Regions from separate parts of the Homo sapiens genome. Here all the other regions are linked to region 3. Evidence: fine-mapped expression QTL. A gene starts in region 3. Each other region holds a variant in brackets. All regions are shown on one strand. Distances are between the middles of the regions.

Region 1 (8,153 bases), 32 kb before region 3:
AGTAGCTGGGACTATAAGCACATGCCACCATGCCTGGGTAATTTTTTTTTTTTTAATTTTGTAGAGATGAGTTCTTGCTATGTTGCTCAGGCTGGTTTTGAACTCCTGGCCTCAATCAATCCTCCTGCCTCTGCCTCCCAAAGTGGTGGGATAACAGGCATGAGCCAATGTGCCTGGCCTTTTTTTTTTTTTTAATCATCAAATAAGTAGTGTGCTGTGCTGACAAAGTCAATGTTGGTTACATTTCCTCTGTTGTTCCCTGATGCATCTGCAGAATCTTAAACAGTGGCTGGCACATAGCTGGCACTCAATAAATACCTATTGAATGAATTATACCATTAAATCAATTTTTAAAATCTAAGAATATTTACAAAGAAGGCTTAGATCATAAAAGTTTGGTTTTTGTTCGTTTTTTGAGACAGGGTCTCACTCTGCTGCCCAGGCTGGAGTGCAGAAGGGCAATCATGGCTCACTGCAACCTTACCTTCCCAGGCTCAAGCCATCCTCCTACCTTCACCTTCTGAGTAGCTGGGACTACCAGTGCACCACCAACATGCCTAGCCATAAAGATAATTTATCTATAAATTTTCAAATGTAATTAGAAAACACCACATAAAACAGAGATAAAAAGTTAGATATAGAGATTTTTTTCTTTACAAAAGCAAGTTTTTCTTATGCCTATTCTTAGCAGAGCTTAAGGTCTCTACATCTTTAAAAATGTCTATGAAAATTCCATTTTCTGATTTTCAATAGCCTAAAGGATTTAACTGAAATCCTGACTTTTTAACTGAAATCCTGAAATTTGATCACTTCAAACTCAGTATGTCTGAAATTAAATCACACTGTAAAATGAAAAAGAATCCAAATATTGCTAGAATTGGACGCATGTGTAGTAATGCATACAGAAACCTCTGGAAGGATATTCAGCCAATGGTTAACAGTTCGAGGGGTGGAAGCTGCAGTAGAGGCGAGGGCTGTGGTGGAAGCAGGAGACTGACTTCTAACTCCACATACTTCTGCAGTCTTTGATTTTTTTTTTCTATAAGTATGGGTTACTTCTGTGATGCATTAAAAAAAGAAAATAAATAAAACGAATACTCTTCTTCTTACTGAATGTAAACAGGCATTTCATCTCTTCTATTCCTATTAAAGCTATTATTACTCTCTCAGTCTAAAAAATATAATAATCTTAAATTCCTCCATATGCTTTGCAGCCTCAAACCAAAACCTGGTAGTTTCTAACCCTGTCCCCGTCCCCTTCGGCCACCTTTTTTTTTTTTTTTTAACCATGATTTCAGATTTTTTTCCTTTCTCTCTATTCTTACTGTCACTATCTCAGTATAGTCTCAAGTTCTGCCCACTTCAATCTCTTATGCACATCACTGTCAGTACAATTTTCTTAAAATACCACTTTAATCATACTATTCCCCTACTTAGGAGTATGCAATGTTTTCTACTACATGTTTTAATTCTTTTGTCTAGCTTTCAAGTCCTTCCATAACCTGATCTCACTCTGTTGAACATTTTACTCAGACACCCTTGGAATGAACTAGCTGCATAGGGAGCTGAACACCTTACTGGTACTTTTATTATGCTTAATCTCACCTGGACAGCTTAGTTTATGTGATTCTCTAAGCTGGAATACTCTATACCTTTATACAACCATACTTCACAGCTCAACTCAAATCTTATCTTTTCTGTGAAGTAATCCTACCCCAGAATCTATAGCCTACAGCCATCTCTCCTCTTATCCCTTTTACATTTACTCCCTGTACCATGCAAAAAAATATTACAGTACTAGTGTTGAAGAGTCAGTCTGAAAGATTTAGCACCTGCTTTCAGTACATGCCAACATATTTAACATATAATGTGACACCGACAGAGACATCTGCCCTTGAATGCTTGGAGACATTGTTACCCTAAGGCAATTCTTAAGTTCATTATTTGTTCATTATTTGAATTAATGGTAACTTCTAATACTTGCTTTAACTTGAGAACATTTCTTTTAGAAGAAACAAACACCATCAGTTTGTTGTTTCCTGACATTCTGGAACTCTTGAACACACCTTATGGTCAGGGATTGTATCTTAGTAATTTTATGTCTCCAATGCCTAGTACAGGGGTTGGTTCGTAAGTGATGCTCAGTAAGTGTTTGTTAAAACAACAGAAAGGATTTAAAGGGGTGGAATACAAGATTCCATAGTGGTAACCTGGAGCTACAGAATTTGATTTTAGAATAAGGCTGGTATAGAAAAAAGAATCTAAAAATATCTAATAAGTATACCAAAATTAGCATTAAAAAAAAGTCACCAAATTACGTGGGAATAATGAACCTGACAATCTCATTCTCACTGAAACCAAGAAACTGGCTACGGAAACTTGGTAATTAGGAACAAGGTTTACACTGAAGAGCTGCAGTGACCCCTGGATGACTTTGGAATACCTAGTCACATAGAGTGGCAGCTCCCTTCTGTTTTGTATAAATGGCAGTAAAGGTAACTATGTATTCAGGAGACATTTTGAATATCTAAAGATACATGGTAGCAAACATAATCTGGACTATGCCTAGCCTAGCCTAGCCTAGCCTATCACTAACGGTATACTCAAGGACCACTGCAGCGGAGGCCAGAGGAAAAAGAAACAAAAGCCAGAAGAGTAGTCAGCTGGTGATGTACTTTCAAGATAAAAATGCACGCATATTACTTTGTGGTTCCACATTCAGATGTATCAGTGAGCTGGGCATGGTGGCTCATGCCTGTAATCCCAGCACTTTGAAATGCTGAGGCAGGAGGATCACTTGAGCCCAGGAGTTTGACACAAGCCTGAGCAATATAACCAGACCACATCTCTACAAAAAATAAAAAGATTAGCCAGGCATGGTGGCGTATCCCTGTAGTCCCAGCTACTTGGAAGGCTGAGGCGGGAGGATCACTTGAGCCCTGAAGTTCGAGGCTATAGAGAGCTAAGATCGCACCACTGCACTCCACGCTCGGCGACAGAGTGAGACCCTGTCTCAAAAGAAGAAGAGTAATAGAAGTATCAGTGAAATCAAGCATTCAAAACATATACATTTTTGGAACTCAATATGTAAAGTCAATAAGTGGCTTTTAGGGTAGTGGTTTATCAGTTCATTCATTTATTCAACAAATATTTCTCAGGTGCCTATTATATAATGGCCCTACAGGTTACAGAATACAAATATAATCAATTTTTCTCCTGGAGAGGGGAAAGAGACATACACAGGTGATTACAAAACAAGATGACAAATAATATAAAAGAAATATGCACAGAATTATGAAAGCAGATAACATGAGTTCCCTAGAGCAAGTGATAAGTGCATCTGAAAATAAAAGTAATACTATTGGTGGGCCACGGGCAAAGGACACTCTAGGTAAGAAACAGCACGCATGTAGGAATGGACAGCTTAAAACATTTTGGAAAAGGCAGGTAGCTCAGCGTGGTCGCAGATTAGCATGGCAGGCTGGCAAAAG[G/A]TAAGCAAAATGCTAGCTCACAAAGGGAACTGTGTACTGCTAAGAGTTTCGATTTTTAGCCTGTAACCAACGAAGTATAGTTAAAATGTTTTTAAGAATAATGACAGGATCAGATCTGTGCTATGGACAGATTATTTTGGCAGCCCTGTGGAAGCGGGAACGAAACTTGGGGCCTAAGAAATACAGCGTGTGTCTGTGAGTCTCAATTTTCCAGTATAGGAACCACTTTAACAAAACAAAATATCCTATGAAACACTTCATTCAGTTCTCCAGCTCACCACCTTAAACATCATGACTTGAAACTAAAATGAGTGGTAGTTTCCTCTCCTCAACAAACACACATACAATGCTTCACATCAACAAGATAATGTGGAGCTTCTATTAAAATATTCCATTCCTTCCATTAAATTATTAAATACCACTAGCTATAGATATTACCAGACATTCATTTAAAACTCATAAGTACTGTAGCCCAGATTACCTGGAGAATCTTGTCAACTGCCCACGGTCCCTCTATCCTACTTCGATAGCCACTGACATCTCACTGGTAACCGAGACGTAAGTGAAAGTACATCTAATCAGCGAAACTGACAAAGTCAGCCTTGGAAAAACAGTAAATGGAGATGTCGTTCACGAAACGAACAGATACAGAAAGACGAGGCAGTGTCCCTAACGGAGCAGAGCTGTCAACGAGTCTATGTAGTTAGGAGCCCAGGAATGGCCAGTCTTGTAAGAAACGGCCGGTAGACGGAGCGCCTGTGACAACTAGTTGTAGTAGTTTGCGGGCAAGGGAGAAAAAGGACCGAGGTAAAAGAGGGTGTAGGGCACGCTGGGGGTGGATCTACCCGCAGCAAACAGGAGACAATGAGAGAGATCCAGACACAATTCAGAGCGGAGGAGCGGTAGGAGGGTGTGGAGCTGGGAGCGAAGACCCGACTCCCGGGCTGGTGGCGGGAAGTTAGCGGATAAGGAAGAGGCACCCGAAGGATGACTAGAGTTTGGAGCGGCAGTGGAAGCCCAGGGACGTGGGAGGCCGAGGAAACAGCAGATCTCGAGGCGGGGTGCGGGATGCACACCCCGGGGACGCGGAGGGACAGGGAGAGCGAAGGTGTCACCCTTGACTTGCCGGGGCAGCCCTCCCGCACCCAGCCCGGTACTCACAGAGCTCAGAGTACCGATGGCAGCCCCGGCCCAGCTGCTGCAGATAGCGCTGCAGCACGTCCGTGAGGAGGTGGCAGGCGCTGAGCTGCACCGAGTCCCAGCCCAGCGCCTGGCAGATCTGCGCCACCGAGACCCTCAACAACGACCTGGAGTAACTCTCGCACATCCCGCTGCGTGGACGCCACCGCAGCCCTTGCTGCCACTGCTCTCCAGCCCCGCCGCCAGACCTTAGCAGGGTCCCCGATTCATCCTCTAGGGCTTCCGCGGCGGGGAAAGGGTCCCCCGGACCCCCGGCGACCACCTCAAAGCCCCAGCAGCACGGAGCGCGCCAGCCTGAGAGCCGCCATTTTGGACTCGCTCCGCCTCCCGCTGGACGGCCGCCGGGGCGAGGCAGCATAAGCCGAATGCCGAGCGCGGCGATGAGAAAGCTCCGCCCCTTGGGAGCGGAACGATTCCTCGGGATCGCCTCTGAGGCCTGGAAGCCGGCCGGAAGCGGGCGTGGGGCGCGCAGGTGGAGGAGGCGCCCAGGGCGGCAGGTGCTGGGGCGCTCACCTGGGGGACAGCGGTGACGAAAACGCCAGTGTTTTAGAGGCAAACGAGGGATCTGGGATACGACATTGACAGGTTAGAGAGTTAGCACTAATAACGTTAGTCATATTAGAGAGTTATGTGCTAGAGAGAAGTTTGGGGCGTGGGAACTTACGGAGCTCGCCAAACGCAGACCTGCGCTGGTGTTGCCTCAGCTAAAAATCTGTGTATTGAGCTGCTTGCCACTGCAAAGATTAAATAAAGTCCAAGCTGTTCCGCATGCCCTTCAAAGCCCTTCGCAATAGGGCAGGAACTAGGAGGACTCTGTGCCAAATTAATGGGGGCCTCAAAAAACTCAGTCATCAAGATCGATAATATTTTAACAGTTTTTTTAAAAAAATCCAAATCCATGCCATAAACTCCTGACTCACTCATGTCATTCTAATCCCAGCCCTGGTTCCAATAAAACTTTTTTTTTTTTTTTTTTTTTAAAAAAAACAGGTAAGCTGCCTGTGGGCTATAGTGTGCGATTTGAGCATCGCGGCTGTGACCTATCGGGGGATGGGGACCTCGGCTGCCTACAGAGGCCAAACCGAGCCTTAAACCGGTGTCGCAGGCCGAGTGTCCTGGGAACGGTTGCCTACCCCAGAGCCTTCTCCCAGCTCCATCCAAGTATTGCCAGAAATCGGATTTAGGGATAAATATCTTGATTTTTAAATACAGAATTGGGAACACATCTCAAAAGCCAAACTGATCCCACGGTTAGTCTAGATTCAGCCTGCAGGTCGCCCGATTGTAGTGGCTGAACTATGCGGTTTCTTAAATATGCCCTTCTGTACTTATCACAGTGTATTTAGTTTATGTGCTCCTCCAATAAATTGCGAGTTTATGAGTGGCTCTATATTCCTCCGACAGGGACTATTCCAGAACTTTGAACATGATATTCACATTTTTCAAAGTCTGGGAAACTCAATAATAGAACTGAAATTATGGTTCTTCAGCTAAATGACGATCTGCAGAGAAGCAAGGTACTAAAGGGCAAGGTGCCTGCATTTACTCCCTGGACACTCTGTCCCCAAGTTATCAGGAACATTGTGTTGCTAAATCTATGAGACATTTTTCAGTCCTAGCCGTACTTGATTATTTTGTAGCTATTTGATAATGTTGAACGCTTCTGTAACATTGAAACTCTCTTGCGCCTTGGATTTCACAAATCTGTCCCGCTACCGCCGCCACCCTGGGTGTTTGTTCCTCTTCATTTGCCTTTCTGTGTATAGGGGAGGGGATTTTATTTCGGAAAATTTCAAACCTACAGAAAAGTTGAAACAAAATCATAGACTCACGTGTACACTTCAACTAGATTCACCAATTGTTAACATTTTGCCAATTTACTATATATTTTGTATTTATATATGCACGCAGGTATTTTTTTTCCAGCAGTTTGAAAATAAGCTGCAAACTTCATGACACTTAACCCCACCACACCTCGACATGTATCACCCCAAAACAAGAACATTCCCCCACATAACTATACACAAGACCATATGTCACAGGCTTGGTTCCCCAGGAAGTCAACTCTGAAATAGAGATGAGCCTGCAGAAAGTTCATTGAGGGATCCTCCTGGGACTTGGGGGAAGGAGTGAAAGCCAGGGTGCAGTGAATTCCTTGGCAAGAAAGCCTCAGCCAAGCCAATGCCATAGTGTGCAGAAGCTGGAGTGGCCCTTCAGAGCTTCCCTGAATCCAAACAAGAAGACTGGACCTTTATATTCCCATAGGAACAGGTCACTGCATGAGGGCTACCTGGGAAAGGGTGTGTGCTCTCAGGCAAAGGAACACTGCAGCTGAGTCCATTCAATTCCAAGGACAGCTGAAGTCCTTCAGTCCTGAGGGGGCTCTGAGCAGTGGATTAGAGCATTCATCACAGTTCATCTATTTTACCCTCAGAGACACTTCTTGGTTTGAGGAACAGCTCCTCCAGGATTCTGGAGGGGGCCCTTTCCCTGGGGAAAACATTAAAGAGGAAGGTCAGGAGACAAATTAGAGCCCCGACTGCTGCAGCCAGGCCTCAGCTGATACTCAGTATTCTCCTCCTCAGGCCTACATTTCTCTCACTTCTGGTCTCAGTAGCTTATTTGGTGGCATGATGCAGACCCTCATGTGCAGGTCTGAGCCCCTGGTTTCCAGGCCCTTTTCAGACTGTGGCTGCTGAACTCGTCCTTGTACCATCAGAACTGGGGAAGAGAATACCCAAAATTGGGCAAGAGGCACCCAAACAGACCATGTGGAAACCAAACACTCCACCTTGCCTCCCACTCTGTAATAGGAGCCCATCCCCCTCCTAAAGATGACTCCTCTCTTAGCTGCAGTCTCAGTGGAAGTGCCCAGGCAGCAACTGTAGCTAATGTTTCAGTGGGACTCCTGCTAGGTCCTCTGGTGAAAGCATTCCCCCTTTTGGAAATGGGATCTGTAAACCTGGAGAACCCAGAGTGGCAGGACAGGAAGAACAATTTCCCAGGTGGGTCCCTGGGAGTGATGTAAGTGGAGAAACCCCAGTCTCCACCCTGTGTCATCTACTTATTGGGAACCCAGCATCACAGAAGTCATTGACTTGGTGGGGCACAGTGGCTCATGCCTTTAATCTCAATACTTTGAGAGGCCAAGGCAGGTAGATGGCTTGAGGCCAGGAGTTCAAGACAAGCCCTAGCAGCATAGTGAAACCCCCATCTCTACAAAAAAAAAAAAAAAAAAAAAAAAAAAAAATATATATATATATATATATATATATATATATATATAAAGAAATTAGCCCCAGCTACTCAGGAGGCAGAGGCCAGAAGATAACTTGAGCCCAGGAGTTTGAGGCTACGGCGAGCTATGATCGAGTCACTGCACTCCAGCCTGGGCAACAGTGAGACCCTGTCTCTACAAAAAGAAAAAAGGTTGTTGGCTTAAAGAGTGCACAGCAGCCTAGG
Region 2 (8,184 bases), 48 kb before region 3:
TGGTAGAGATATATATTATACGGGCGCTCAAAGAAGCCAGGGTGGGCATGGTGATGGACGAGAACTCCATGCCAGCATGAGCTGACCCAGGTACATAGTTATTTTTGGGAAACATCAGCAGTTTAATGATTCTGGAAGGTAAAGCACGAAGCAACGAGGGGCAAGTAACTAACATGTCAAGTGGGCAGGAGTCCGATCACACAGGGCCCTGTAGGTTTATGCTAAGACACGTGTACTGAACACCACAGGCATATCCCAACATCAGCCCTTGGTACGATTTCAGCTGCAATTATCTGGCTCAGATGCTGCTGGATTTAAAAACAAAACAAAACAAACAAACCAAAAAAAAAAAAAAACAAGCAATGCCTCCAGACAACTTCCCTAGATACACAGAAGGAACGTTCCCCAGACCCTGGAACTCCAGCCTAACAAGGTAATGAACAGGAAGGTATCTGAGAGGGCCAAGAGAGAGGCAGCCAGATCCTTAACTAGGAGGCTGGGTGTGGAGGAGGCTTATAGCGTCGGATGTTAGGGGGCCAGAAGGTATTCAAGAAGCCTGCCTGCCCATTAAGAAAACCAGCTTGGCCAGGCACAGTGGCTCACGCCCATAATCCCAACACTTTGAGAGGCCTAGGTGGGTGGATCACCTGAGGTCAGGAGTTTGAGACCAGCCTGGCCAACATGGTGAAATCCCACCTCTACAAAAATTACAAAAATTAGCCAGGCGTGGTGGTGCACACCTGTAATTTCAGCTACTTGGAAGGCTAAGGCAGGAGAATCGCTCAAACCCGGGAGGCAGAGGTTGCAGTGAGTCGAGATCAGGCCACTGCACTCTGGCCTGGGCAACAGAGTGAGACTCTGTCTCAAAAACAAACAAACAAACAAACAACAACAACAAAAAAAAACAAAACTGGCTTGGTAAAGGTACTCTTCTGCTTAGGACAGTCCTGGCCAAGCAGGGACTTCCAAACAACAGCAGAAAGGCCAAAATGGGGAGAGAGGAATATCTCACTCATCTCTCTATATTCAACACCAGTTCCTTGTGTAGGATCCGACTCATGGCAGGTACCCATACACACAGCACTGAACGGAGTCAACTAAACCCTAATCCAGCTTTGCTCCCAATTCCCAATGCAACACGAGGCAGGTTAATTCAATTATGATTTTTAAACTTCCATTTCTCCTTCCATAAATGGGAATGATAGCAGCATCTGCCTTTAGGACCTGTTTCAAGATTAAATGAGATAATGTTTATGAATATATTATGTGATATCAAGGATAAATTATTTGATGGCTGCTTTTACATACACAAACATTATTTTAGCAACTGAAAGCCATGCAAATATCTTCATTAACATTCCTCTATTAAATCAGTAAGTAATCTACGTTGTAAGAATAAACATCTTTTCTCTTGAATAACTACAGCTATTCCCTTTTTATTTTTTTGAGACAGGGTCCCACTCTGTCACCCAGGCTGGAGTGCAGTGGCTCACTGCAGCCTCAGCCTCAACCTCCCAGACTCAAGTGATCCCCCTACCTCAGCCTCTGAGTACTTACACCACCTCAGCCTCTCAGGCTTACATCACCACTCTTGGCTAATTGTTTTATTTTTTATTTTTTCTGAGACAGAGTCTTGCTCTTTTGCCCAGGCTGGAGTACACTGGTGCAATCTCAGATCACTGCAACCTCTGCCTCCCAGGTTCAAGCAAATCTTGTGCCTCAGCCACCCGAGTAGATGAGATTACAGGCACGCACCACCACGCCCAGCTAATTTTTGTATTTTTAGTAGAGACGAGGTTTCGCCATGCTGGCCAAGCTGGTCTTGAACTCCTGGCCTCAAGTGATCAGCCCGCCTCAACCTCTCAAAGTGCTGAAATTACAGGCATGAGCCACCACACCCAGCTGACTTTTTTTTTTTTTTTTGCCCAGACTGGAGCACAGTGGTGCAATCTCGGCTCACTGCAACCTCCACCTCCCTGGTTCAAGCAATTCTCCTGCCTCAGCCTCCCGAGTAGCTGGGACTACAGGCCCATGCCACCATGTCCAGCTAAATTTTGTATTTTTAGTAGAGACAGGATTTCACCCTGTTGGCCAGGCTGGTCTTGAACTCCTGACTTCAAGCAATTTGCCCACCTTGGCCTCCCAAAGTGCTGGGATCACAGGTGTGAGCCACCACGCCTGGCCAGATTTTTAAATTTTTTATAGAAACAAGGTCTCACTATGTTGTCCAGGCTGGTCTCAAATTCCTGGGCTCAAACGATCCTCCTGCCTTGGCCTCCCAAGTGCTGGGATTATAGGCATGAGCCATCACACTCAACCAAAGCTCTTTTCATTTTGATGCAAAAAAGAAAACTCCTCTCCATAGGTATTTTTGGTAACTGTAAGCAGTTGGAGAGCCAACAAAGTGTTTTATAATGTGGGATGTGTTAATTTTTTGTCTAATAGTTTCGTTTAGAGGATAAGGACAGTTCAGACAAGAGATAAAGGTTTAAACAAAGGAAGTGATGCAATAATATTTTGGAAATTTTTTAAGAAAGAAAATTAGCAGAATTAGAGATAGGGAATGAAGGAGAATGAGAGAAGAGGTCAATGCTAATTCTCATGTTTCTAGCTTAGGTGACTGAGTAGAGATGGTGCCACCAACTGAGATGGATAACACAGGTGTATTCGTGGTAAGAAAATGTGGAAATGGGCCGGGTGCAGTGGCTCACGCCTGTAATCCCAGCACTTTGGGAGGCCAAGGTGGGCAGATCACCCAAGGTCGGGAGTTCAAGACCAGTTTGACCAACATGGAGAAACCCCGTCTCTACTGAAAATACAAAATTAGCTGGGCTTGGTAGCTCATGCCTCTAATCCCAGGTACTCGGGAGGCTGAGACAGGAGAATCACTTGAACCAGGGAGCCGGAGGTTGTGCCATTGTACTCCAGCCTGGGCAACAAGAGCGAAACTCCGTCTCAAAAAAAAAAAAAAGAAAGAAAAAAGAAAACGTGGAAATGGCCAACTGCAACTGGTTGCAGGGTCTGAGAGGTGGATGTAGAGGGACAGTTTGGGGAGGCATCAGCATACAGATGGGGGTTCAAACTATGAGAGTAGGAAAGTCAACTCTGAAACTAAGTAACGTGAGAAACATAGTAGGTGAAGGATAAAATTTTAGAAGCACCAATGTTTTAGCAGTAGGAGAGCCAGGGAAGACGTGCCCAAGAAAGGCCCCAAGATGGAGCTCATCATATAAGGAGAGTTAAGGGAGTATGATGGCGCTGAAGAAAAGCAGCTTCAGGAATTGCCCAACAGTGATGAAAGCAGCAAAAAGCTTCAATAAGGGGAATCCTGGGAAGAAAGTGGTAGCTGGGGCAAGGTAGTTTGTGCATCTTCCCAACATAACCAGGTGACAGAGTACACCCATCAGTGCCAAAATACATGCAGGTGACAACATGCCACCAAGCGCCATGAGACCCGAGTATGAGGCATCTATGCAAGGGAAACAGTGAGAAGCAACGGGAAGACTGACCTGAAACAGGAAAACCCCAAAAGGGCCACCAGGCCTCTGCTGGAAAGCCCGGCAGGCCAACCCGAGAAGAGCGGCTGAGGCTGGGAAGGATGGGACCACTTCCAGTACAGGGAGTACAAGGGGCTGAGTGAGATCCAATGGGGCTAGAAGTTGAGCCCAGGAGCTCTCAGACTTGACCCTGGCTGCTCTCTGCCAGGACAGAGCCTCGCTGAGAGGACACAGCTGGCAGTGGAATCACAGCTGGCCAGAAAAAGGAAAACTGACATGAAGGGAAGAGAAGATCCAGGTAAAAGTGGTGGAGGAAAACAAACAAAAAATCTCAGTGAGCAAGTTCCCATATTTGGAACATTCCGCAAAAACGATAGAAGAGGGAGCACTGCAAAGTCAGAGGAGCTACCCTGAATCTCCTTCTAAAGCAAGCTTGTCAACCCACAGCCCATGGGCCATATGCGGCCCAGGACGGCTTTGAATGCAGCCCAACACAAAGTTGTAAACTTTCTTAAAACATTATGACTTTTTTGTGTGTGACTTTTTTTTCTAGCTCAGCAGCTATCGATGGTGTTAGTGTATTTTATGTGTGGCCAAAGACAATCCTTCTTCTTCCAGTGTGACCCAGGGAAGCCAAAAGATTGGACACCTGTGTTCTAAAGGCTCAGAAAACTAACTCACATATAGTTTCTATAAAGAAGAGAAGACTAAATAGCAAAACATCCCTCCAGACAATGAAAGTACGAGAGAAACACACACTCGAAAAAACTGATGAACCTATAATG[T/C]TCTATCTTGAAATGATCTAAAAGACATGAAAGTATATAAATCAAAATCAGAAAAAACTCAGAAATTAGGTAGCAGAACTCAAGACAGTAGCTATATGATCTGACAAGATACACACGGTAAAATGAAAGAAAATTGGTTTCATAGGACAGAATGAGCAAAAAAAATTTTTTTTACCTGTTTCAGTAATCATGAATGATAGTATCAGTTGCAATATTGTACGTGTAATCTGGGATAAAGCAAATGAATAATTATGGAATATTCTAATTTTATCATCTTCTTTATTCCTGAGAACCAGAATTCTCAGTATGGATGACAGTATTTATGGATGTAACATAAAAAATAAAAACCTTGTAGTCCTAAATATGAATTGGAAAATCTGCATGAACTCAGGAGGAACCCTATCCACCTATCTATCTATTCACACACATCTACATGTATATAAATATTTATTTACTTATTGCCTAGAAACAATGAACAACCGAGTTATATATAATAAGTATCCCTTAGCACCGAGACTGTGTACTTGAAATGCTATTTCCCAGCGTGGAGACAACTGGATATCCATATGCAGAAGAATGAAATTGGATCCTTATCTCATACCACTTAGAAAAATCAACTCAAAATGGAATAAAGACCTAAATGTAAGACTTGAAACTACAAAACTGCTAAAAGAAAACATAGGGGAAAAACTGTAAGACACTGGTCTGGGCAATTATTTTTTATATTTGGCCCCAAAAGCGCAGGGTGACAAAAGCAAAACTGAACAAATGGGATTCCATCAAAATAAAAAGCTTTGGCACAATAAAGGAAACAGCAGAGTGAAGGCACAACCTGTGGGTGAGGAGGAAAACACGTGCACCCACACATCTGACAAGGGGCTCACGCCCAAAACATGTAAGCAACTCAACAACAACAAGAGCCACAACCACCACCAAAAAAAAAGGCAAAATATATAAGGAACCCAAACAACTCTATAGAAAGAACAGTCTGGCTGTTGTCCTGTGCCGGAGGACAGCAGGCAGCCATGGTGCCCAGCGGGAATGGCAAGATCTTGAAGCCCCACTTCCACACGCACTGTGCAGCGGCTGAAGGGGTACCGCTCCAAACTCATCCTCTTCCCCAGGAAGCCCTCGGTCCCCAGGAAGGGAGACAGTTCTGCTGAAGAACTGCAATTGGCCACCCAGCTGACAGGACCAGTCATGCCCATCCAGAATGTCTATGAGAAGGAGAAAGCTCAAGTCACCACTGAGGAGAAGAATTTCAGAGCCTTTGCTAGTTGCTGCATGGCCCGTGCCAATGCCTGGCTCCTCCACATATGGACAAAAAGAGACATGGAAGCTACAGAACAGGATGTTGAAAAGAAAAACTGAAGCCCTCTTGGGGACTTGTAATAAATCAGCAGTATTGCTGGGTCCCCAAAAAAGGAAAAAAGAAAACCCTACAGAAAGAAATAATCCAATAAAAAATGAATAGACATTCCTCAAAATAAGACATACAAACTGCCAACAAATACATGAAAAAATGTTCAACATTACTAATCATTACAGAAATAAAACCACAGTGAGATATTACCTCACACCTGTTAGAATGGCTGCTATAAAAAAGATGAAAGGTAACAAGTGTTAGCAGGGATGTGGAGAAAAGGGGGAATCCTTGTACACTGTTGGTGGGAATTTAGATTAGTAGTCATGGAAAACTATGTGGAGTTTCCTCCAAAAACTCAAAATAGAATTACCATATAATCCAGCAACCCCACTCCTGAGTATTTACCCAAAAGATTTGAAAAGATTATGTGGAAGAGATTCTGCTCTCCCAAGTTCACTGCAGCACTGTTCCCAATAGCCAAGTTACAGAAATAACCTAAGTGTCCATTAACAGATGAGTGGATAAAGAAAATGTAATATATATACACCACAGAATACTATTCAGCCTTTAATAGCACCACAGGGTGACTAAAGTCAACAATAATTTATTGAACATTTTATCTCGAACTCCTGGCCTCAAATCATCCTCCTGCCTCAGACTCCCAAAGTGACAAGATTACAAGTGTGAGCTACTGCACCCTGTACATTTAAAAATAACTAAAAGAGTATAACTGGAATATCTGTAGCACAAAGAAATGATAAATGCTGGGCCAGGTGCAGTGGCTCATGCCTGTAATCCCAGCACTTTGGGAGGCTGAGGTGGGCAGATCACTTGAGGCCAGGGGTTTCAGACCAGCCTGGCCAACATGGTGAAATCGCATCTCTACTAAAAACACAAAAATTAGCCGGGTGTGGTGGTGGGCACCTGTAATCCCAACTACTGGGGAGGGTGGGGCACAAGAATCACTTAAACTTGAACCTAGGAGATGGAGCTTGCAGTGAGCTGAGATCACACCACTGCACTCCAGCCTGGGTGACAGTGCGAGACTGTCTCAAAAATAAATAAATAAATAAGAAAGAAATGATAAATGCTTCAGGTGGTAAATATCCAATTTAGTCTGATGTAATTACTACACATTGTGGTGTGCTTTTATTAAAATTCTTATGTACTCCATAAATATTTATACTTACTGTGTACCCATAAAAATTAAAAAGTATTATTATTCAGCCTTTAAAAAAAGAAGGAAATTTTGTCATTTGTGACAACATAGATGGAATTCAAACAATTCTGCTAAGTGAAGTAAGCCAGGCACAGAAGGAGACATACCACATGTTCTCACTTATATGTGGACGAAAAGAACCAAATTCCAAGAAGCAGAGAGTAGAACAGTGGTTACAGAGGCTGGGGCAGGGGATGTGGGGATGTGGGGATACAGAGATGATAGGCAAAGGGTACAAAGCCTCAATCTGACAGGAGGAGTACTTTTTTTGATACATTGCACAGCATGGTGAAAAAGAAAAATAATAATGTATTACACATTTGAAAATCATTAAGAGAGTAAGTTTTAAATGTTCTCTCCACAAAAAACGATAGGCATTTGAGGTGACAGGTATGTTAACTAGCTTGACTTAATTATTCCACATTGTATTTATAAAACATAACATCGCTTTGCACCCCCCAGATATATACAAATGTAACCTGAAATTTTATAATTAAAAAAAATTAAAATTAAAAAAAGAAAAGAAATACTACTTTCCAAGAAACCAGGGTTTCCTGGACAGATAATTTATACCAAGCATAGAACATGACTATACATGCTGAGTCTAGAACATTTTGATATACCAGAAGGTGAGGACGTCACCAAAGCCAATTCGGGTCATGTGTCAAAAGGACTCAGAAGCAAGAGTGAAGAAGCTGCCACTGGCCAAAGATGCAACAATTAAAGCTACAATATGGGTAAAAAACTGTAATGAGGCCGGGCACGGTAGCTCACTCCTGTAATCCCAGCACTTTGGGAGGCCGAGGCAGGAGGATCACAAGATCAGGAGATCAAGACCAGCCTGGCCAACATGGTGAAACCTCGCCTCTACTAAAAATACAAAAATTAGCCGGGCGTGGTGGCACATGCCTGTAATCCCAGCTACTGGAGAGGCTGAGGCAGGAGAATCCCTTGAACCTGGGAGGCAGAGGTTGCAGTGAGCCAAGATTGAGCCACTGCACTCCAGCCTCGGCGATGGAGTGAGACTCCATCTCAAAAAAAAAAAGTAATGAATGAAATCCGTCAAGTATGTTTAAATCTGTGAGTTCACAATGATAGAGTATTAAATGAAACTAGTCACCTGCTAAGGATAACAAGGAACCAATTTATTCTCATGAAAACTGGGAATATACCATATGAAAAAAATCAAGCGTTAACCCTGCTTTCCCTATATAAACTATGCCATTAAGTTACTAAATAGTGGATGAGGAAAAGGATTTTCTTATAAAGTTATTTCAACTAAAGAATGAAATAAAAACAAAGTGATAGTATTATCAT
Region 3 (8,150 bases):
AATGGACCGTGGATTACCACTATCTACCATGATTCCACAGCGCTGTTATAACAGCTGACGAAGGCAGTGGAGGAGGGAGTCAGGAATGACACCCTTCCAAGAAACTATTGTTTGAGAGATTTTTAAGGAGTATATTAAGATACATAAAAACTTAAAAAGCAAGCAATATTGGCTAATTCTCAACGAAAATTATGAAGTGACTCTAATTCTGATATTAAGCGTGTAAAAGTCCATTACCTGCCACCAGCAAAAACTGACTCCTTCACACTTACCTAACCCACACCCATGACTGCATCATCTTTTTTTTTTTGTTTTTGAGATGGAGTCTCACTGTGTCGCCAGGCTGAAATGCAGTGGCACGATCTCAGCTCACTGCAACCTCCGCCTCCCGGGTTCAAGCAATTCTCCTGCCTCAGCCTCCCGAGTAGCTGGGACTACAGGTGCGTACCACCACGTCTGGGTAATTTTTGTATTTTTAGTACAGACAGGGTTTCACCATGTTGGCCAGTATGGTCTTGATCTCCTGACCTTGTGATCCGCCCGCCTCGGCCTCTCAAAATGCTGGGATTACAGACGTGAGCCACTGCGCCTAGCCCGACTGCATCTTCTTTTCCTCTTTTCGCAAGTCCAAGCAATCTTCTTACATTACATTTGATGTAGAAACTGTACTTAAAAACTCTTCATTTCTCTACTGATATACAGCATTTGGATCCCTATCAGCATTTCCCCCATTGTCCTACATGCTTTGCAAATACTCTAATCCTCACACTAACCCACTGAATTGTGCACTTTTATTGCATATATTTGACAGATGAGGAACTGGTGGGACAGACACTGAGTAACCTGCCCAAGGTCACAGAGCTGCTAAGTGGCAATCAGAATTCAATCCCTGCCGTCTGAATGCAGCCCTTCAGGGCTGGCTACAGAGTCTCTCTCTTCATACAGTACTACACTCTGCTGCCTCACATTTTTTACATTTATTAGTAAATATCTGCCCTCATGGTCTCAGATGACAATTTGTCTTTTCTCTCCTGAAATGCCATCTCCTTATCGGTATCTGTAGTTTATGACTACTGACACGTTATTAAAAAACAGTTCCATTTTAGAGACTACTGAACTCTAAGAAATAGAAATGTTTTTCCCAAATTTGAAGACAGTAAAATCCGGGATTCTTTCTCTCAAATTTTTAATTTCCATTTTCTTATATGCTGCTTTAAAAAAAAGGTTTAATTTTCAAAACGTTAGAGTATTTTGCCGATACCCTAACAACTATTAAAATAACCACTGTGAATTTAAGTAAGCCTAATGTTTTTATGTTAGCATGGTAGCCTCTCTGAAAACAAAAACTAAAATAACAAATTGTACTTTAAAAAACTTCCAGTAATCAAGACAGAAGCATGGAAATATGCCTCTTCATGGTTCGTTAAGACAAAGGTCTTTTCTTCCCCTTCCAAATTAATTCTGTGGAGTGGTTTTAATTTCTGAATTCAAAAGGCAATTATAATTCATGGAAAGAGAAATGGCAGAAGAGGAAGGAAAGACATTAAGCACCAGCAGTGAAGGAATACATGAAAAGAAGAAGACAGAATATGCTTTCATAGTGGAACACTGTTGATTGATGATTTATAAAACCAATATTCCAAAGGGATTAAGGTCAGGATTAGGACCTTTATATGCTGATTGTGGTTCCGATTTAAGCTCCTAACAGTAGTTGTCTTGAACTGAGAGCTCTTATTTAAAACAATCCTTCACTAAAAGAGCTTCAAATTATCTTACAGGTGCTTTAAAAAAAGATATTTCTAAAATTTTTTGTAAAATATTGTCTTTGTTTCAGAAACTATTTCCACTTTTTTAAAGATCAACTTAGAAACTAAGGTTGTAAAAATACTGACAGATAACATTAATGCGTGGCAAGAAGGTAAGGCCAGGAGAGCTGATGTTCGCAGAGCACCACTGCATGCCAGGCACTGTCCCAGGAAACTGACTGAGACCTTATCTATTTGCTCACCATCACATTTGGGCACTTTCCAAGTACCACCGGGTGGAGTGGAAGCACTCAGCTAATGTCTGCTGAGTGGTTAACAAGTGGGACAATCTATACAACTGAGAATTCAACTACAGTGACCTTTTAATTCCCATGAATGTTCTTTTTCCATATTAGAGAAAAAAAAATCTGACTTCCAAGGCCAAGCCACCAAAAATTTTATGTGGCTAATTCACATCAGATATCATTCTGAAAATCTCGTATATTACTATCAGTTATTTGCTTAATGAAAAACCTATTTATTTCAACTAATGCTTTATGGTCCCTTCATATAAATTAGGATACGAAAATCTAGTTTAGCACTGTAGCGCCTTAGAAATCCTCCACACTGTTAAGAGCAGGGAATTGCTACGACACAGCCTAGAATCCCCTTAGCAGCGTGTCTGGAATTCTTCCAGATTCCGTCAAGCTTCAAAACTGAACAGCACCACCCACAAACCAACTTTTACCTGCCCATTCCCGGGCCTTCTAATATGCACTTCCCCCAGCCCAGGTCCCCCTACCCGGAACTAATGTTTAAAATTCTCGAGGCTCGTGGCACCCTTTAGTTGCATGTCAGTTAACAAATGCCACTTAAAAGCCCACCGAACTCCTCCCCCAGGACCTGGGGGCAATTTCATGACCTTGCAGGGTTACGGTTTCAGCAAGTGGTTTCAAGGTAGTGCTAGGTGTCCTTCCCTTCCCCGCCCTCAGACAGATCTGTACGGTCCCTTCTGCACCAAAACCACCCTCAGAGGCATCTAGGATGTTCGCCTTTGCTGTTGCAGCACCCAGCAAAGCGTCTGCAACACGGGAGGTGCTCGACGGCCGCGCTCTCTGACTCGATCGAATCTTAAAGGGTCACTCTGTCCAGCACTACAGGGTTTCAAAGGGCGTCAAGGACAAAAAGCACGACTTAACCTTCCCCTGGGCTATTGCTCAGGCTCCCGTCACCTTGCAGGCCCTGAGACTGGGGGCCTGGCTTGCAGTGGAAGTGGAAGCTCAGGAAGTGCTGATTAGCTGAGGGAACTCAAGACCGCCCAGACGTCAATTTGGACTCAGGCCGCAGTCCCGAGGTCCCAGGTGGCCCTCCGACCTCAGGGAACCGGGCGGGACCTTGCTCCGCCGGAGCCCGGCCCTGCGCACACCTTGCCCGACCTCAGAGCCGCTTCCTGCAGCCCCCGCTACCCGGCGCCTCCGACGGGCCAGGGGCCCAGCTAGGCCCTGCGACCCCACATCTGCCCCCGCGCCCATCTCCTCCTCCCTGCCCCGTGCCCAAGCTCTTCCATCCCTTGCGGTCCTGCCGATCTTCCCGCAAGCTGCCATACCATTGCGGCTGCAAGGTCCAGGCCGACAGCCCAGCGACACCCGCGCGAGAGAACATGGTAGCCACAGCCCTGCTGAAGGTCGGTCAGGCAGGCCTCAGCGCGCATGCGCCGAAGCTCCCCAGCGCGCCCCTCCCACCTTGCTCTCTTCTTCAGTCTCGTTTCTTCGCGCTACGGCGAGGGGAGTCTCGCGACCGTTGCAACCCAGTCTTCCCAGGCCCCACCTCCTTCCGCCTCTCAGCTGGGATTTGTCCCGCCCACCGCCGCCAGCCCGGTTCCGTTTCCGGCTGGCTGAGTACTGGGGTCCAGAAAGTGATCGCTGCCGTGGTCGCCATGGGGAAGTCGGATTTTCTTACTCCCAAGGCTATCGCCAACAGGATCAAGTCCAAGGGGCTGCAGAAGCTACGCTGGTATTGCCAGATGTGCCAGAAGCAGTGCCGGGACGAGGTGAGTGGGCCCGGAGTGGCCCCGTCTTCCCAGGAGGGCCCCTGGCAATCCAGGATCAGGTCCTGGACGCGGGGCTGAGGGCGCGGGGCTGGGGCTCCCGGGGTCCGGGTCGTGAGGCTTCTGAGGTCTGCAGTGGGCGAGTCAACTACTCAGCGCACGAGAGCCGTCCCTCCCCGCAGCCCCCGGGCCCAGCGGGCAGCCTGTGTTCTGCGACCCCTCATTCCTCCCCAGTCCGATCCCCACCACCAAAGAAATGAAATCAGAAAAGGTTTTGCACCCCTCACAGGGGCGGGGATACTGCAATACTAGACGCCCGGGCAATGCCAGTAACAGTCATCAGCTCTTACTTGACTTGACTCTTAAGAGAAACAGGGTGGTTAGGATTCACTCCTCTTTTGGGATCAGGTGAAAAAGGAGAGCTAAGCTCTTCCACACTACTCATCTAGCAAGCATTTATTGAGCACCTACACTGTACCGGGCACAGAATAATATTGTGGTTAAAATTATGGATTTATCTGGTTTATGGATATATCAGACTGTCAAAATTTAAAGTCAAGCAGGGCCACTTACCAACCGTGTGGTCTTGGGCAAGTTATTTACTTATATTCCCCTTTACTTATCTGTAAAGAGGGAATAATAATTTCACCTACTTGTAGGATTGTCGCTGAGTTTTAAATGAGTGAAGTATATATAGAGTGGCTCAAGGAGTCTGGGCAGATCTCGAAAAGCCTTATATGGCTACACTATGGAATTTACACTTTTCCCCATTAAAGAGGTGGTTGATTGAATGCTGTGCAGGCTAGTGATGTGATCATATTTTTCTCCGGAGATTGGACTGGATTGGGTAAGGGTGGAAGAACACTGAGGCAATTGGAATAATCTAATCCAGTGTTTCTGCAAGTGAAGGAAGAGGTATTTTAGGTAGGACTCATACTAATATTGATACAGTTACTCTCTTTAGTTCTATTAAGGAATACCTGTATATGCATTATCTAATGTCTTAGTCTGCTTGGACTGCCATATAAAGTGCAGTAGACTGGGTGGTTTAAATGACAGAAATTTATTTCTCACAGTTCTGGAGGCTGGGAAGTTCAAGATCAAGGTGCTGGCATGGTCAGATTCTAGTGAGGGTCCTCTTCTTGGTTTGCGAAACTGCCTCTATCCTCACAAAGCAGATAGAGCAAGCTCTAATAGAAACTTCTCTTCCTCTTTTTTTTTTTGAGATACGGTCCCACCCTGTTCATCATGCAGGCTCTACCCTTGTGACCTCATCTAAATCCAGTCATCTCCAAAGGCCCACCTTTTAATTCCATTCCCTTGGGGGTTAGGGTTCAATATATGAACTTTGAGGGGACGCAGACATGCAGTCTGTAACACCCAGACTTAACACTTTAAGTAATTTTGCCGTATTTACTTTTTAAAAAATATTTTAAGGTAAATACCAATATCAGGATATTTCACCTTTAAATACTTAAATAGGCATCTCTAAAATTTCAGGATACTTTTCTATATAACCATAGTATATGTCATCAACATAACACAATTAATAGAAGTTCCTCTTTATCATCTAATACACATTCACACTTCCTCAGTTGTCCTCCAACTGCTCCTTGAAATCAAGATTCGATCAAAAGCAATAGACTGTTATAGGTTTGGTTATTAGGACCTCCGCTCCCCTCTCCAGTCTCCCTCATCATCAACATCCTGCAACGAGGTGTTATATTTGTTACCATGGATGAAACTACATTGACACATCAGTATCATCCAGAATCCATAGTTTACATTAGGGTTCACTCTTGGTGTTGTACATCCTATGGGTTTTGACAAATGCATAATGATACGTATTCACCATTATAAAATCTCACAAAATAGTTTAACTGCCCAAAAAGTCCTCTGTGCTCTGAGTTATTAGGACTTTTAGTTTTCTCCAAATTTAATTTTCTCTATATTCTGAATTTAGAATATAACCCATTTTCCCTCCACCCCTTTTTCTTTTTTTTTTTTTTCTAGACAGAGTCTCACCTGTCTCACAGGCTGGAGTGCAGTGATGCGATCTCAGCTCACTGCAACCTTTGCCTCCCGGGTTCAAGTGATTCTCATGCCTCAGCCTCCCAAGTAGCTGTCCCAGCTACTTTACAGGCTGGGATTACAGGTGCCTGGCACCACACCTGGCTAATGTTTGTATTTTTGGTAGAGGCGAAGTTTTGCCACGTTGGCCAGGCTGGTCTCAAACTCCCGACCTCAGGTAATTCACCTGCCTCGGCCTCCCAAGGTGCTGGGATTACAGGTGTGAACCACTGCGCCCAGCCGTCTTTTTCTTGACATTGACTTGTTGAAGAGAGGAGGCCAGGCTGTTGTCCTGTAGCATCCCATATATGTTGACTTGTTTCCTCTGGTTGTCTTTTGCCTTCTAACTCGTAGTTTCTGTCAACTGGAAATTATATCTAAAAGCTTTGATTGGGTTAGATTAAACATTTTGGGGAGAAAGAATACTTTGTAGGTGATCTTGATAGATTAATTTCAGGTTAAACATTTGCAGGGAGGAATATGATTTTTTTTTTTTTTTTTGAGACAAGGTCTCAATTGGTAGCCCAGGCTCGTGTACAGTGGCGCGATCATGGCTCACTGCAACCTTGACCTTCCCAGCTCAAGCAATCCTCCTCCTGCCTCAGCCTCCCAAGTAGCTGGGACCACAGGTGATTGCCACCATGCCTAATTAACTTTTTTATTTGTATAGAGATAGGGTCTCCCCATGTTGCCCAGGCTGGTCTCAAACTCCTGAACTCAAGCACTCCTCCTGCCTCGGCCTCCCAAAGTGCTAGGATTACAGGCTCAAGCCACCATGCCCAGCCTATAGTATTCTTTATAGGTGATCTTGTATATCTCATATAGCATCATATAAGGAAGCCAATAATGTTTGGTAGTACTTAAATTGAGTAAAGGTGACAGCTTGTAAATAATATTAGAAAGTATTATTTTCCCCCTTGTAAGAGCAAGTGAGTATTGGGGTAATACTTAGAAATCATACCTATATATCTAGTTTCCCATTAACCTTTTACCTGTGTGTTTTAGCATCCTTGCCTGAGTCAGTTATTTTATTAGGAGTTGCAAAGAGGTTATTTTTCTAATTTTTTTTTAACATTTATGATTGGCTGCCATGCTTTTGTACAAATGAGCTTTTGCTCATCAACTAGGGCTATTTGGTTATCCTTAAACTTATTTTTTTTTGTTTTTGAGACAGGGTCTTACTCTTGCCCAGACTGGAGTACAGTGGCTCGATCATAGCTCACAGCATCCTCCAACTCCTGGGCTTAAGCAATCCTCCCGCCTCAGCCTCTCAAGTAGCTGGGACTATAGGCACATACCACCCATGCCTGGCTAATTTTCAAAAAATATCTTGTGGAGATGGAGGTCTCATTGTGTTGCTCAGGTTGGTCTTGAACTCGGAGGCTCACACAATCCTCCTGCCTTGGCCTCCCAAAGTGCTGGGATTACAGGCATGAGCCACTGTGTCTGGCCATCCTTAAATGTTAAACTGAGATGCAATTTTTTTGGGAAAGGAGTAAAGGATTAATTCTTTTCTGTAATCTCCTGATACTGGAAGGCTGAAGAGAATGAAGGTCAGAGCCAGGGTATCCCCCCAATCTACTCCTGGGTTTCTAGGATTTAGTAACTGTATTGTTTGTTCATTTTATTTTATTTTTTAATATATGGAAAGTGATACTGTTTATTTATGAGGCTGATACCAAGTTTCTTTTAAAAATAAATTTAAATAATAACTATGATTCTTATAGGGCACAGATGAGGCAAAAATTGTGTAAGAGGTCCATGATCTAAAGATTAGGAAACTATTTGAAGCAAAATCGAGTGTGGAAATCTGGACGGTGTCAGTGAGATTGATCAGAGGGACTGAATATGGGTTATTAAGAAGCTGAATAGACTTCCTATTAAATTGGAGGTAGAAAGAGAAGAAGGAATCTAGGATGTTGTCTGGTTTCATGGCTTGGGTGCTTGTGCTTCAGATAGAGATAGGGAATACAAGAAAGGCACATTTTTTGTTTCTATTACTAGTGAAGAATGAGGGTCAAATATTAAGGAGAGGTATACTAAGTCAAAACTTGTATGTTTTTTTCCTGTCATTTTAAGAAGGTACAGATTTAATATGTTTAACAAGGTTAATATAATATGCAGCAATGTATTTTGGATAATGAGCTGAAGTAGAGGAAAGTGAGCGAAAGTAGTTTCTGTGGTGAAAATTCACTAATGACCCATTTTACTCCTTTGAGCACTTGTCTGACACTTTGTATAAAGTATGTGCTCAATGAGAATTGATTAACTTAAGTCTAAAAAATGGA

What was found.
Region 1: its variant is fine-mapped to the expression of ATP5F1C in blood mononuclear cells (TOPMed, PIP above 0.99). The same link has a PIP of 0.9 or more in whole blood.
Region 2: its variant is fine-mapped to the expression of ATP5F1C in atrial appendage (GTEx, PIP above 0.99).

The regions. Positions count from the first base shown.
Region 1 is chr10:7,815,375-7,823,527 of GRCh38, reverse strand. It overlaps TAF3 (TATA-box binding protein associated factor 3), which reads right to left and starts at 5,023. Exons shown (of 7, transcript NM_031923.4): 1 at 4,653-5,023. The coding sequence starts at 4,818. LOC105376392 (a long non-coding RNA gene) reads left to right here and starts at 5,165. Exons shown (of 3, transcript XR_001747356.1): 1 at 5,165-5,276. RefSeq lists enhancers at 4,311-4,828, 4,957-5,016, 4,829-5,347. The variant G/A (reference allele first, on the strand shown) is at 3,492.
Region 2 is chr10:7,831,081-7,839,264 of GRCh38, reverse strand. All of the region lies in intron 2 of TAF3 (TATA-box binding protein associated factor 3), which reads right to left. Among named protein-coding and RNA genes, the nearest start is that of TAF3, 17 kb to the right of the region's middle. The variant T/C (reference allele first, on the strand shown) is at 4,283.
Region 3 is chr10:7,783,465-7,791,614 of GRCh38, reverse strand. It overlaps ATP5F1C (ATP synthase F1 subunit gamma), which reads right to left and starts at 3,438. Exons shown (of 10, transcript NM_001001973.3): 1 at 3,352-3,438. The coding sequence starts at 3,407. KIN (Kin17 DNA and RNA binding protein) reads left to right here and starts at 3,622. Exons shown (of 13, transcript NM_012311.4): 1 at 3,622-3,795. The coding sequence starts at 3,682. RefSeq lists enhancers at 2,354-2,897, 3,350-3,669.